Linked DNA regions of Homo sapiens: region 1 is linked to region 2. Evidence: fine-mapped QTL for protein levels in blood plasma. A gene starts in region 2. The other region holds a variant in brackets. All regions are shown on one strand. Distances are from middle to middle. Region 1 overlaps CLGN (calmegin). Region 2 holds the start of CLGN (calmegin).

What was found. PIP is the chance, under the fine-mapping model, that this variant and not a neighbour inherited with it causes the effect. The UK Biobank Pharma Proteomics Project read protein levels with antibody pairs (Olink). The fine-mapping took linkage between variants from a reference panel, not from the people measured, so its PIPs are less certain.
Region 1: its variant is fine-mapped to the plasma level of the CLGN protein (UK Biobank, PIP above 0.99). The variant lies in the coding sequence of CLGN. If it changes the protein, the assay may bind it differently, which can mimic a change of level.

What each region holds. Positions count from the first base shown.
Region 1 is chr4:140,394,526-140,402,870 of GRCh38, forward strand. It overlaps CLGN (calmegin), which reads right to left. Exons shown (of 15, transcript NM_004362.3): 6 at 7,460-7,541; 7 at 5,832-6,024; 8 at 4,326-4,515; 9 at 1,567-1,680; 10 at 1,294-1,444. Among named protein-coding and RNA genes, the nearest start is that of SCOC, 25 kb to the left of the region's middle. The variant G/A (reference allele first, on the strand shown) is at 4,402.
Region 2 is chr4:140,424,502-140,432,821 of GRCh38, forward strand. It overlaps CLGN (calmegin), which reads right to left and starts at 3,147. Exons shown (of 15, transcript NM_004362.3): 1 at 3,036-3,147. RefSeq lists an enhancer at 2,304-2,353.

The sequences.
Region 1 (8,345 bases), 30 kb before region 2:
TCCATTAAATCAAATACATTCAACAATATCATTGCTCACTGACTCACTCCACCATCACATGTATGTATTCTGGGCCAGGCACTATGCCAGATGATGGAGACATACATGGTTCCTGTATTATGGAGTTTAAAGTCAAATAAAAGAGACAGACATCAAACAAAAAAATTTACCAAAAGAAACATTTTGTGTTAAATGCTTTTAATAAAAACTACAGTGAGTAATTAGAATATGAAACTGCATATATATAATGTTAGAACGTATCCATAAATAATTACAAAGATAAAACTAGAGGGTTAAGTGGATAACATAGAAACTTTTAATATAAAAAGCTAGGTACACTCAAAAGATGTCGATTGATATCAGAAAAAAATCAGGGCTGGGTTCGGTGGCTTACTTCTGTAACCTGAGCACTTTGGGAGGCCAAGGTGGGCGGATCACGGTCAGGAGTTCGAGACCAGCCTGACCAACATGTGAAACCCCGTCTCCGCTAAAAATACAAAAGTTAGCCGGGCGTGCTGGGGTGTGCCTGTAATCTCAGCTACGTAGGAGGGTGAATCAGGAGAATCGCCTGAGCCCAGGAGGCAGAGGCTGCAGTGAGCCAAGATCACGCCAGGCCAGGTTTTTTGTTTTTTTGTTTTTTTGTTTTGAGTCTTGCTGTGTCGCCAGGCGGGAGTGCAGTGGCACGATCTCAGCTCACTGCGATCTCCACCTCCAGGGTCCAAGAGATTCCCCTGCCTCAGCCTCCTGAGTAGCTGGGACTACAGGCGTGCGCCACCACATCTGGCTAATTTTTTGTATTTTTAGTGGAGACAGGGTTTCACCATGTTGACCAGGGTGGTCTCCATCTCCTGACCTCGTGATCCGCCCGCCTTGGACTCCCAAAGTGCTGGGATTACAGGCATGAGCCACCGTACCTGGCCAAAAATCAGAATTTTAATAATACTAAATAATAAGTACATTAATTAAGCACAGGCATTAATTACTAAAATGTACAATATGAGTCTATTTGATCAAAATTCACTTCTTATATTTACTTCTAAAATAGAACTTTATTTCAAAGTGAGCATCAACTGATAATTAGGGAAGAATATAGTATGAAGTGATTTATTTCCCCAGAAAATTAAATAATTGATGCTCTACTTTTAAAATATAAATTAGTTGAGGTCTATTTTCTTTGACATCTTAAAATTAAAAATGAAACTTCCAAAAGTTGACATAGGTAATTAGATATTTAAATAGAAAAGATCACAACATTTTTAACTTCACTAAATAATTGGAACAAGCGGTTGTTACCTGATAGTTAGGATTATCGACCAGTGGAGGTCTCCATACTCCTTTGTATTTTGGGTTATCTATCATGGGAGGTTTCCACTCACCACACCCAATCCGACATGCTGGATTAAGAATCTGAGGTGCCTCCCATTCTCCATCCGTGTCTTCATTCCTTAGGATATTAAAACAAAGCAAATACAGTAACCTCAAGTCTCAGATCAGTCATATAAACTAGTAACAAAAATGCATGTAAGAAACATTTGAAATCGACATTTGAAGATGAAGAGTGCTTACCAGTCATCAGGTTTTTCAGCATTAGGATCAGGGATAAATTTTGGTTCATCATCAAGCCAGCCAGCAGGTTTAACAACACTTGAATCTTCTATTTGGGCAGGTTCACTTTCATCCCTGTAAATACAACGTTTTATATTACTAATTATTCAGAAAGTTTAAAAATGCATGTTACAACACTAAGAAGGTACCATAAAATTATTTCCCTCCCTTTTGTTTGTGCCTGTTATTTGTCCTCATCTACTACCCACCTAAATCTTTTGCTAACTTGCCAATTTTTGGTACATATTCCCTGTTGTGCTCTATGCATACATGCACACACGTATACATTCTTTTTTTTAATACGAATGATAGCATTCTATACATAATGTATTAGACCTTGCTTTTGTTACTTAAAAACTCAGTCATTCATCAACAAATATATATTGCATGCTTACTATGTGTCAAGACTGTTCGAGGAGCTCCATTATTATTATTTTTTTCTTGAGGTGGAGTCTTGTTCTTGTTTCCCAGGCTGGAGTGCAATAGTGCGACCTCAGCTCACTGCAACCTCTGCCTTCCGGGTTCAAGCAATTCTCCTGCCTCAGCCTCCAGAGTAGCTGGGATTACAGGCACCTGCCACCACGCCTGGCTAAGTTTTTGTATTTTTAGTAGAGATGGGGTTTCACTATGTTGGCCAGGTTGGTCTTGAACTCCTAACGTCAGGTGATCCACCCACCTCAGCCCCCCAAAGTGCTGGGATTACAGGCATGAGCCACCATGCCTGGCTGGAGCATATATATATACATATATATATATATATGTATATATATATATATGTATATATATATATATACACATATATATATATACACATAGCTTCATTCTTAACAGTTGCATAGTTTTCTACTTGAGGATACACCATAATTTATTTAGCTTATCTCCTCTTGGAGGACATTTAGTGTTTCCAAAATTTTACTATTATTAATACAAACAATGCCATAGTGAATGTCCTAGAATATATGCCATTTCTCATCTGTGAAAATATAATTGTTAAGAGTATGGACATTTTAAATTTTGATAGTAGCATCCAAATTACTCTCTATAATGGTTACACTCCACTTCCGGTTCTACCAGCAGCATGCAAAAGTACCTATTTTCTCCTGTCCTTGCGAAGAGTGTTACCAAACTTCTTGATTTCTGCCCATGTGGTAGGTGAAAAATGGTATCTCACTGAACTTTGAATGTACATTTAGTAGCATAAGTGATACACAAAAACTATTTTTTCTTAGCTCATTACCTTTATACTAAGAAATTAGCTCTCTGTCAGCTATATGATTGAAAATAATTTTTCCTGGTTCTTGTGTGTTTTTTGAAATAGTTTAGGGAGGTTTTTTTTTTTGCAATATACAAATCATTTATTTTCATGTAGTTGAACTTATTTTTAAAGGATTCTTGGATTTTATGTCATATTTGGAAAGTTCTTCCCTATTCCAATATAATTTTTAAAACTCTCCTTATTTAATTCTAGCATTCTTATTTTAAAAAGAACACTTAGGCTGGCGTGGTGGCTCAAGCCTGTAGTCTCAGCACTTTGGGAGGCTGAGGCGGGAGGATCACGAGATCGGGAGTTCGAGACCAGCCTGACCAACATGGTGAAATCCCATCTCTACTAAAAATACAAAAATTAGCCGGGCGTGGTGGCGCTTGCCTGTAATCCCACCTACTCATGAGGCTGAGGCAGGAGAATCCCTTGAACCCAGGAGGCAGAGGCTGCAGTGAACTGAGATCACGCCATTGCATTCTAACCTGGGTGACAGAGCGAGATTCCATCTCAAACAAAAACAAAAACAAAAACAAAACACTTAGTAAATTCTGAAGTATATAAACATAAAGTACTGAACTACTAATACAATTTTCATCATTACAGAAAGATAGAAATTTTAAACAAGAGGACACTTCATGATTTTCCAAATGAGTTACAAAATAAACAGAAATAATCAACTTTACAAATGTATAGATTTGTGCTTGCCTGATACCAATGTCATCTTGAGTTTCTGAGTGCTCAGAGTAACCAAAAGTTAAAATTTAATGGAGCATTTCTTTTAGTACTTTGTAAAACAAATTCTAACACATTTCAACAATCAGAATGAAGCAGTTATATGTGGTTTCTCTCATTTAAGGGCAAACATACTCTTTTTTTTTTTTTTTTTTTTTTTTGAGACAGAATCTTGCTCTGTCACCAGGCTGGAGTGCAGTGGCACGACCTTGGGCTCACTGCAGCCTCTGCCTCCTGGGTTCAAGCAATTCTCCTGCCTCAGCCTCCCGAGTAGCTGGGATTACAGGCACCCGCCGCCATGCCCGCTAATTTTTGTGTTTTTAGTAGAGACGGGGTTTCGCCATGTTGGCCAAGCTGGTTTCGAACTCCTGACCTCAGGTGATCTGCCCACCTCGGACTCTCACACACATACAATAAAGATCAAACTAGGAATGAAAATTAAAGCACTGGTATTTTGGATTTATGAAATTTTTAATCCACAGCATTGAAAACATAAAAAATAAATATATATTAAAAAATGCAACATAATTATCAATAGAAATAAAAAAAAATTACAGGGAGGGAAGTGTAAAATCCATTTTAGAAAATATTTCACCCAAAATACTAAAAATAAGTAGTTCTGATGTTTAAAAAAATAAACTTCATGGGTTGTAAACTTCACTTATATGTTGTTTCATTACCTAGTTATGCCAGATAATGCTTTGCTACCGAATTATTTGCTTACCAGTCTTCTGGTTTGACGGCAGAAGGATCAGGAATTTTTGCTCTTTCATCCCATTCCTCAGGTTTTTTATCATTGG[G/A]ATCTTCAATTTCTTTGGGAGGTTTGATAGGAGGAACCACATCCTCTAGGAGGCTTCCTTTGTTTACAACTGTTTGATCAACTAACACCTCAAATGTGTCATCTGGATTCATCACTAAGGGACCAATTTAAATAAATTATAGTTATCATTTTGATATACGCTTTAAAGATAATCTTCTAAATAATGTAACTACCCTTAACTCCATGGGTAAAGCTTTTTTCCCAACCAGAAATAGAGGAATAACCAATGTATTGAACTAAAACATTCTAAAATCACTAGATACATTTCCTAAAGATAAAATTTTGTTTTAAACTGCATTTTTTACAATAAAATGCTCCATTACTTCTCAAATAAAAAATAATACCAAATAGCTCTGTTTTGGGACTCATAACGAGTCAGCTTCACTCTTTTATAGTTACAAAATACAAGCTAATCTTTTTCAGCATTTAATTTTTTTGATACCATCTTAAAGTGTTGTAAGTATAACAAAAAATTAATTTATTCTGTTCTAGTAATATTTTCTCATTATTTCTACAGTTTACTTGGTGTTCCCCCAAATGCCTAGTTTTTTCAATTATTTCATAAAGATATTTATTATATCACATCTGATATTGAAGATGAAATGGGCATTGCCCGAGCAGACAAAATGAATGTTTCTACCACTGCAGCATTTGGGGAAAAAGATTGAAATACTTTAATCTTGGGTGGAGTTGAGACGTGAGAAAGGAAGCCAATAGGGCCATTTCAAAATGTCCTATTAGGTTCCAATATGCTCTGATTTTGATAGTGGGCTGACCAGAGCTCTACAGCCATTATACTTGAGAATGGGAGAAACAACTGCTTATGATGTCCCTCACCCCCATATCTATGCAAATTCCTATTTACTTAAGTATATTAATATATGGCTGCTCAATGCTTCTCCTTTCGAAGTACATGCCACAACCAACACAAGGTAGGACATAACAATAATCACAACTGCCTACAGAATAAAGTCTAAACTTTTTAGTCTGGCATTAAGGGCCTCTTCCTTTTTATTTTTTAGTTTTCTGTTCTGGCCTCTTCCTTTTTATTTTCTAGTTTTCTGTTCTTACAGCACCACTGTCACAACGTCTAAAATGTCCTTTCACCCTACTGTCTTCAACATTCTATCTGTACTTCAAGACGAGTTCAAATATAATCTTTCCTAGCTTTGTTCCAAGTCTCTAAGCTGGAAGTAATATTGCTTGTGAACTCTTAGCTGTGCCTCATCTCTCTTTCTTATATGGTACTTTATTTTCTACCCGTGCTGTCATTATACATGTCCTATTTTCTGAAAAAGATAAGCTCCTTCAGGATGGGGTACACATTTGTTTTCTTGTAAAGCACTTGCCATGAATACATCAATAGTCAGCAAATATTTTTGAATACATGAATGAATTAAAAGGGTATACCAAGGGTATAAAGATGAGTCTTCCTGTCTGTAAAGAACTTTTTAAGGTCTACATCTGGAGGTTTGGCATGTTTCTCTTCGAAAACTCCAGTTTTGGGATGTTTATGTCTGAAGATAAAATGAAGTTTATAATCTTCTCCACATTTATCTGGTCCAAACATAATGATATAGGATGTTTTATCATAAAAGTTTTCCTTCAAAGAGAGATGAGTGTTGGCATTAGTCCAGAATCACAGACTATTTAATGCATTTCTGTATTTTATCCAATGGGTAGAGTTTACAAAAATATATTAAATGGTAATTCACCAGAGAGCTAGCTATTTAATACAAGTGACAATAAAGGACATGGGAAAATGACAAATTTTACTTCAATATAGATTTTTTTAAGTACACACTACTTCCTGACGATGTGGGACAGAAGCTGAAAATACTCTAGCAACACCATAATATGCTTTAACTCTCTATGTAAATCTATATTACTAATATTTTTATTGAGAGAATTAGGCATTAGAGGAAAGCATATTTATGGCCTTAAGACTAAAATTATCACCCATTACTATTACTTAGGAAGATACCAGAAAATGACCCTCTGAGCACAAGATGAAGAGAGATTCATTCAGACATAAAAACAGACACGAGGACATGAATTTCTCTTTATTTGGCATGGCATAGTGGTTAACAGCATGGGGCATGGAGTCAGATACTGGGGTTCAAATCCTACCACTGCCTCTTAAACTAGTTGGGTGTCACCCTGACTCAAATTTTTTAAAGCTCTCTGCACCTCCATTTCATCACCTCTGAAGTATGGAGATGATAATAGTACCTACCTTATAAGAGTTCTCTAAGGATTAAGTGAATTAATCAGATAAAGTGCTTATAGAAATACTTGGCATTAGATTTTTTTGTCATCCTACCTTCAAGTGTTCATCTAAAACAAGAGCTTCAACATATACTCCAATGGCCTCTCCTTCACTTGATCCTAATAATAATGAGTAGTACATGAAAAAGTCTCCCATCTACATTTCATAGCTTATGTACAGCTAAGTGTTCTGAAAAATATACCCCTGATGTCTCATCTATCGTATTTCTGTTATATGCAGAAAGTCTGAAACAGCCTTTTACAGGAGAAGGCTATAAGAAATATCCCCAACTTTCCAATGGTCCTAATACAACCTCTTAGAAGTATAAACCTATTTCATCATGAAAAGTTTTTAAAATTAGTTACTTTCTGTGGGTTGCTAACCCCTTTTAATTTGGTTCTTCGGCCATTTTGTTTCACTGCTATGCTTTGTTATGCTTCTCTAAACAAACTTAAGAGTCTTATTCTGTAAAGAAAATAACTCTAAGCTATATTTCAAAAGAAATTTATAAGTATCACGTAGTTTTTGTCCTACAGACATGGTAAACTTTTTCATGTTGTTAAAGATTATAAAATTGATGCCTTCAAGTAACACAGCTTTATATAAAACTTGAAGGCGAATTGTAAGAGCTATGTAAATTCACATTGAAAAAAGATATCTACAATTCTTTTCAATTTCAGTTGAAGACAAAATATTCAGTTTTATCATTTGTTCCTTAAAAATACTTATTAACTTTAATAAGGTTTTCTTAAATATTAAAATATCATACCAGAATCAAATCATCAGTGTCTGCTAGGAGTTTAATGTATGCACCTCCACAATCAATACCATCTTGAAAATTTACTTCATATCTGAATAAAGGGAAAAAGAACCGTACTACTGATAAATAAAATTTACTAGTTGCTCTTTAAAATATAATCTTATTATTCTCAATTCATGTAAGTATAAATTTTTTTACATTATCAGAAAACTCATATAAAGCATATCTACAACCTATAGGAAATAAGCAGAAACGCTTTTCTACTACTCTAAAACAAGACACATCATTAAAATATTAAAAATAGAATGATTACAATCAACTGCAGACAAACCAATCAATTTGTTTAAATTTTTTTCCATCAAAACTGATAAATTAAGCATAAGATACTGTAACTAAAACTACAACAGGAAATTTCAAATTCTGATAAGGTAAGCACTATACTTACACTTTATAAACTAAAAAAAAATAAAGGCCGTAAGAACCACAGCTACAGCAAGATTTCTACGAAATTGCTAATGATCTTAGATACCTAGAGTTCATTACACCTTACCATGTTAAATAAGTTGTACATTTAATTAAATAGCTCCAGCAAAGAGATTCATAATCTCAGTCAATAAGCTGGATTTCAGACCTAAACAGCCAGGAGATATGGGAAATTTTCACTGTTTAGTATAACAGCTAAAAGAATGAACATGAGAGTCTCTTATGAATTTACAACACAGTGTAATTCTCAGCAAAGTTTTTTTTTCTTTATTGGTAACTTTAAAAGGAAATAGCCTTGCTATGGCAATGAGGCATAGACTTACGAGATTTTTTGTTGTTAAATTAACGAATTATATGTGACAAAAATCAACAAGGAAATGGCTGTCAAACAGTAAAAACAAAAAAGGTTATG
Region 2 (8,320 bases):
TCCATATGTTTATTATGTTTAGTTGGCTTGTGGTGTTATCTATTTCTTTATTGATCTGTATGGTTGTTTAAGTTATATAATTTTAGTACAGCAAGAATTTGTTTATATGGTATAGGGTAGAACATTTAGTGCTAATGTCACCCTCTTCCCTCCTTATAAATTAAAAGGTAGCATGCCCAGGGTTCCAAGCTTCTTATGTATTCCTCACTCCATGAGGCTTGCTGAGATCACTAAATATCAGTTGTGCCTTCATAAGAAGGGAGGCACTGAAGAACTACATCCTTCTGCACCAACACGTATCTTTGATCTCATGTATGTTCTCTGCACTGCTTCTGTGGTAGTTCAATAACAAATTGAAGCACAAGTAACTTTATCCATGAATGAGATACCATTCTTCCCAATCTTTGAAATCTAGATCAAGTAGTCTGGTCTACTTTAAATAATTACACCAATATCTCCTAAAAACCCTACTGGATCTCCACTACCACCCCCAAATTACAAATTATAAAGTGCAGCTCATGTACTGGTATTGAAGTAATGCTCACTGTCACATCAAAGGTAAGTAAGGCACACAAAGAAAAGACAATCACAGGATATGCAATATGTGTTGTATAGTGTGGGAGAAGTTGCTGGCTGATCACAAGGGTAATTTCCTTGGCACTAGATGTGACCATTACCTGGTTCCAGCCAACAGAATGTAAATAGAAGACCTGTATGCCATTGTCAGCCCTTGCCCATAAAAACTTCCTATAATTATGAATTATAATTCTTTATGATCTTTCCCCTTCTGGTTTGATGCAAGCAATTTTGAAGGTCATGGTTGAAAACGGCAAAATTCCAAGGTAGGAAGTTGCAGAATCCCTGAATCATTACTTGGAGGAGAGTCATTTTATTAGTCAGAGTTCATCAGAGAAGCAGAATCAATAGGGTGTGTGTGTGTGTGTGTGTGTGTGTGTGTGTGTGTGTGTACATACAGGCATACCTCATTTTACTGCACGTTGATTTATTGCATTTTTCACAAATTGAAGGTTTCTGGCAACACTGCATTGAACAAGTCTACAGCTGCCATTTTTCCAACACTATAGTCACTTTATGTTTCTGTGACACATTTTTGTAATTCCTTTTTTTTTTTTTTTTTTTTTTTTGAGATGGAGTCTTGCTCTGTCACCCAGGCTGGAGTGCAGTGGCACAATCTCGGCTCACTGCAACCTCTGCCTCCTTGGTTCAAGCGATTCTCCTGTCTCAGCCTCCCGAGTAGCTGGGATTATAGGCGCGCGCCACTATGCCCGGCTAATTTTTGTATTTTTAGTAGAGACGGGGTTTCACCATATTGGTCAGGCTGGTCTCCAACTCCTAACCTCAGGTGATCCGCCCGCCTCGGCCTCCCAAAGTGCTGGGATTACAAGCGTGAGCCACCGCGCCGGGCCTTCTTTCACTCTCAACACACCTATTTAACACACTTTTTGTACATGCTATTTCTTATAACTGCGATGCCTTTCTGCTGTTATTCAGTTTTAATGGCTGACTGAGGATCCGACCAACACTGGTATATTCCAGAAGTGGTGTTTGACAATCACCTATTACTTAAAGTTTTAGTTGTCATGTGGCTTCAGGAATGCAATGTAGAATGATATAATAAAAAGTACACCCAACATGGCACAATCGCACCAAGTTTCTAGTTTTATTATTAAAAAGACAAGTGATAAAAACTGCTGTGGGCCTGTTTTCTCATTTGTGACGTGAACTAGACAATCCAAAGATTCTTTAAAGTTCATAATTCTAGTTTTCTATTTAAAAACACCAGTATTTATTAGGTACTTAAAAAGTACTACAGCTAACTTACAACACTTCAATTTCTAGACAAATGCATCAACATACTTACATCATTTACACACAATAATTAACCTTATCAACTAGCTAAGACAGAGAGTACAGAATATCTTGTTCTGAGGATTTGGAGATGAGATCTAAATGTTACTGGAAGATCAAACCAATAAGACGTGAAGGCAAAACTCCAAACTGAAAACAGGTCAAACTTACAATGACCCAAAGGAGGGCTACCTCGAGTGATGTCGACATTTGTAAAACAAGCAAAATCATCAGATGAGATCGGGATTTTGCCTGCTTTTAAGCAACAAAAAGTTTATACGTTAATGAACTCTTTTCTAATTTGAGACTTCTTCCTGTGGCCACGTTATTTACCTTTTCTCTCCCAGTCCTGAGCTTTGGTTGCCATTTGCTTTTAACTCCCAAGCAAACACCTCCTCTTTGTTGCTTGGGCAGATGCTATAAATAAAATCAGCGAAAGTGTCTGATTGATGGTAAACAGGCCTGGGGCGATAATGAGTCTAGTAATTAGGGCCTCTCTGGATTCAACCCAGCCCTTTCGCCCGCCCCCCGGCGGCGCACAATGGGCTCTGCGCGGGTATCGAGGGAGCGGCCAACAGTCCCTGGCCCCACCGCCGTGAAGTGGGGTCCCTTCGCTTCCACATAGGTGGAGACTGAGACAGCCGAGCCTATTTTGATCTCGTTTGGGTTTCTGTAAGGAGCAGTCAGCAGAGTGAGCAGCGCCCAGACGCGCCCCGGGCCCCCTCTACAACCATTGGGAGAGCGCCCCGGGCTCAAGCGTGGAACGGGGCTGCAATGGCAACCGCTGGAATAACGGCCTCGGCTCCCGGTGGCTCCTCAAGCCCGCAGGGGAGGCCGGCCGGGCTAGGCACCTAGCTGTCCCCGTGCTCGTCCGCCCCAGCCCGGGCGCAGCAGGTGGATGCGGCGGTGCTGAAGACACAAAGGGTCCCAGGTGGCACCACCTCCTGCGTCCACCCACGGGGCCGCCAGAGCCCAGTCAAGACCCTAGCTCGCTGCAGCCCCATCGCCAGACTCAACATCCACCCTCACTTGGCCCCGACCGGTTCAGCCCTCTGGCGGCAAAGTAACGGGGTGCCTGGGGGAAGCAGCAACGACTCCGCTTCCTCACCCCAATCTGCGCGCAAAGGGCAGCGGGACAGCGGGAACGCGGCCTGCTGCTCACGCACCTCTCTTGCGGCCTGTTTTCGGCAGTGACAGCTCAGATGTCCAAGTCGTTGCCACTTGGTCCCCGCGTCTCTTCAGACCAGTCCCGCCGGCGGCCGCGCAGCAGCGACTACTAACCGCGCGTGCGCGTGCGGTGGCGGGCGGGAGGCGGTGGCGGCCCGAGGTGTGTGCTACGCGCTCCTGCTCCGAGGGGCTCAACCGCCTCCAGGGGGAGCCGCACATGGAGCCTGTGCCGCCGCCGGCCGGTTGTGGCCTGGACCCCGCTCCCGGGTTAGCCCAGGAGGAATTCCCCCTGCAAGTCCGAAGACTTTTCCTCCTCTGAGCTCCCGCCCTCTCTGCAGACCGTGCTACCTCCTGTTGCGCAATGATTGGGTCCTGAATTTTATGTAAATCATATTTATGAACAACGTCCAGTAATAAGTGCAGCAAGATTAGGGCTCTAGGTTTTCTCCAGAGTTCTAGATGTTAACAGATCTGCAGTCATGGTGATTAATAAGGAGCTTTCCTGTCTGGTGTGTGTATATGACAAATACAGATGCGTTAAGTGTTAATAAATACATTGTATATAAAACAATATGTTCTTTTTCTCTCGAACAACACTATTAATAAGAGCTGCTAACATTTATTGTGTTCATTGTGCTCTAAGGGGCTTACATTCATTGTTTAACCTTCGTGGCAACCCAGGTGATGAAACTGATGGCAACTTGCTCGAAGTTACACAACATGTAAACAGTGGAAACGGGATGTAAATCAGGCCTGTCTCTCTCAGAGCCTGTAGTTTCAAACACATTGAAATAAATCTTAGCATAAACGTAGTTTATGCTATGATTATGCAATCACAAGCTGCTTTGCCTTTTATATATTGGATCAATATTAATTTTACTACTTAATATTTTATAGTAAATCTTGACTTTGAATTTGGTATAACAATTTAATTTTATTGGAAGATTAATTAACAACATTTAATTGACTTGTGAGTCTAAGACCCTTGTTGAAGAGTTTCAATCTTAAGGGTTTGGTGGCATTCCGTGCACAACGTATCATTATTGGCTAGGGGTCAAGATCACTGAGTTTTTTCACATTGCTTCACTAATTAAGACCAGCATTTCTAAACTTTTGACTTTGTCATCTCTGGGAGAGTGTTTGGATAGTGTTAAAATTTACTGGTTAAAAAGACATTTTGTTTGAGATACTTTGTAACAATATTATACCCTTTATTTCTTTCTTCCGTCCTTCTGACTTCTATTATTCAACATACTTCTGTGGCCCATAACAAATACACTTGAACTGCTAGAGAGGGATTTTTTAAAGGATCCATTCAAAGTTTGCAGTGAGGAAGCTGAAAACTAAAAATGTAAGAATAGTGAATTTTTGCAAGATTTAGTAGTATCTTCTTGGTCACATAGTACTCAAAACCTTGAGAACATTTTTTTACTCTTTGGCTGCTACATTCACTGCCTCCATAAATTAAACTCTAACTCCATAAAATCATCTAAAAGAGGTCCTCACCCCCTCCAGTCCCTGTGCCATTTCTCTAGTTTAGATTCTCACTACTTTAGAAACTGTTGTTCAGAGTTACCTAACTAGTTGCCCCCCTTCAGAGCCTCCCACCTACACTTCGTAGTTTAATCCTCAGCTCATTCAATAGTTTCCAATGACCCTTCATTACCCACAGCATGAAATCTAATCTCTAACCTTGAAATTTAAGGCCTTAACATATCTCCAAAATTATTTGCCACTTATTGAAAGGATGATTGAATATAATATTTATAATTTGTTTAATAGGCAACTTTTCATCAGAATAATACAATGTGATAATGTCAGAGGAGAAAGAATAATCTGCAAATAAGACAAGGGGTATGGCTTTTGAGAGTGATGTAGTGTTTAATAATACAAGCGGAGGAGTCCCAGAATGTAATGCTGAATGGTAGAGTCGTGAAGTGTTCTGACACATCAAAGTTGAAGAGAGATTTGGGAAGAGACCAAGGCAATGTAATCAAGATTGGAGGGACTAGAGTAATCAGAAATCTAGAAAAACATAAAAAGCAGGAAAGGTGACCTGGCATGGTGGCTCATGCATGTAATCCCAGCTCTTTGAGAGGCTGAGGCAGGTAGATCACTTGAGCCGAGCTGCCTGAGACCAGCCTGGGAAACATGATGAAACCCCATCTCTACAAAAAAATACAAAAAATTTAACTGGGCATGGTGGTGCATGCCTGTAGTCCTAGCTACCTGGGAAGCTGAGGTGGGAGGAAGCTGAGGTGGGATGAGCCCAGGAGGCAGAGGTTGCAGTGAGCCCAGATAGTGCCACTGCACTCCAGCTTGGATGGCAGAGTGAGACATTGTGTCAAAAAAAAAAAAAAAAAAAAAAAAAAAAAAAAGCAGAAAGGTTCATGCTCCTTGATGGAACAGAGTGATGTCCTGTTGGAAGCCTGTTTTGTAATCAAAATCAGAGCTGTGTTTTATTAATGTTCTACTATGTGCAAGTTGCTATATGCAATTGACCCACAGGTATCATCCTTATTTTACTTATGAGGAAATAGACCCAGATCAGTTACATAACTTATTCACACAGATCTTAAGATGCAGAGTGAGGATTCAAAGCCTGTGCCCTTTCCACAACACCTTGCCACTTGAAAAATGCAGAATATAGGAAATGCCTCGATTATCAGGATTAAAGAGCTATGCAGAATGAAGTTTTAACTCAAATACAATGAGTGGACTCAGAACCTAGATAATTCAAATAATACTTTAAAAATGTTTGTATATTTTCATATGTTTAGGAATGTGCTTTTTAATGGTGCAGAAAATAGAGAAAAGGAAACAAAGTATTCCACAAGTATTTCCAGTGGGTTGACTTTTATTTTCAAGATGTATAATTATGTCTATGGCAGAAAATGATCTTTTCTTTCTTATATTTATACTTATTTTCTGAGGTTTTTTTCCTTATTACTTTAACAAAAATATCAAACAATAGTAAATAATAGTAATGACAATAGTCATCATTGTTTTTCCCAGAATTCGTCTGGTTAAACTATATAGTTGGCAGAATGAGCCCATGCTGAGTTTTTTTCTTGTGTCTCAAGATAACCCCCCTCAGAAACACTACCCGACTTTAGGATTTATAGAATGATATACAGCTATAGTTATCAAAGAGTTATCAAAGAGTATTAGTATCAAGGCAAACAAATCAATGGAACAGAATAGATTCTATATAGACTTACATGTGTATGTATTATGGCCTGGATATGGTTGGTTTGTCCCAACCAAAACTCATGTTGAAATTTGGTCCCCAGTGTGGCAGTGCTGGAAAGTGGGGCCTAATGGGAGGTATTTGGGTCATGAAGGTCCTGTCCTCGTAGGTGGCTTGATGCCATTGCAGTAGTGAGTGAGTTCTTGCTCTGACGAGACTGGATTCATTCCCATGAGAATGGGTTGTTATAAAGCTGGGTGCCCCTCAGGTTTTCCCTCTTTGCATGCGTCTGCTTCCCCTTTGACCTTCTCTGCCATCTTTTGGCCTAGCACAAAAGCCTCACCACAAGCCAGAGCCATGTCCTTGAACTTCCCAGCTAGCCAGACTGTGAGTTAAATAAATCTCTTTTCTTTATAAATTACCCATTCCCAGGTGTTCTGTTATAGCAACACAAAACAGAATAAGACAGTGTGGGGAACTGGTTTTCAACATAGGTACACATGCAGTTGGTAGAGAAAGCCTAGTCTTTTCAACAAATTGTGGTGGTACAATTGAATATTCACATGTAATAAGTACATTTTTCAATCCATACCACACAGCATATATAAAAAAAGAGACTGGCTGCATTTTGCCCCGTCTTAGATATTTGTGGAACTTTGAACTTGAGGGAGATGATTTAGGATATATGGTGTAAAAAATTTCTAAGCAGCAAAGCACTCAAGAGGTGACTTGGGTGCTATTAGAGGCACTCCGTTTTAAAAGGGAAACAGAAAATAAAAGGTTTGAAAATTTGCAGCCTGACAATGTGATAGAAATGAAAATCTCCACTGCAGAAATTTTCATAAGTAACAAGAAGCCAAATGTTAATCCACACGACAATGGGAAAATGTCTCCACGGCATGTCAGAGGTCTTCATGTCAGCCACTCTCATCACAGGTCCAGAGACCTAGGAGGAAAAGACAGTTTTGTGGGCTGGGCCCAGGGCTCCTCTGCTCTGTGCAGCCTAGGGACTTGGTACTCTGTGTTCCAGCTGCTCCAGCCATGGCTAAAAGGGGTCAACGTACAGCTCAGGCTGCTGCTTCAGAGGGTGGAAGCCCCAAGCCTTGGCAGCTTCCAGGTGGTGAGCCTGTGGGTACCCAGAAGTTGAGAATTAAGGTTTAGGAACCTCTACCTAGATTTCATAGGATGTATGGAAACGCCTGGATGCCCAGGTGGAAGTTTGCTGCAGGGGCGGGGGTCTCATGGAGAAGCTCTGCTAGGGCAGTGCTGAAGGGAAATGTGGGGTCAGAGCCCCCCACACAGAGTCCTTGTGGGGCACCACCTAGTGGAACTGTCAGAAGAGGGCCACCATCCTCCAGACCCCAGAATGGTAGATCCACTGACAGCTTGCGCTGTGCACCAGGAAAAGCTGCAGACACTCAACACCAGCCTGTGAAAGCAACTGGGAGAGAGGCTATACTTTGCAAAGCCACAGGGGTGCAGCTGCCCAAGACCGTGGGAACCTACCTCTTGCATCAGCGTGACCTGGATGTGAGACATGGAGTCAAAGGAGAGCTTTAAGATTTGACTGCCCTGCTGGATTTCAGACTTGCATGGGGCTTGTAGCCCCTTTGTTTTGGCCAATTTCTCCCATTTGTAGTGGCTGTATTTACCCAATGCCTGTACTCCCATTGTATCTAGGAAGTAACTAACTTGCTTTTGATTTTACAGGCTCATAGGTGGAAGGGACTTGCCTTGTCTCAGATGAGACTTTGGACTGCAGACTTTTGAGTTAATGTTGAAATGAGTTAAGACTTTGAGGGACTATTGGAAAGGGATGATTGGTTTTGAAATGTGAGGACATCAGATTTTGGAGGGGACAGGGCAGAATGATATGGTTTGGCTGTGTCCCCACCTAAATCTCATCTTGAATTGTAACTCCCACAGTTCCCAAGTCTCATGGGAGGAACCTGGTGGGAGATAATTGAATCATGGGGGTGGGTCTTTCCCATGCTGTTCTTGTGATAGTGAATAACTCTCATGAGATCTGATGGTTTAAAAAAAACAGGAATTTTCCTGCACAAGCTCTCTTCTCTTGTCTGCCACCATGTGAGG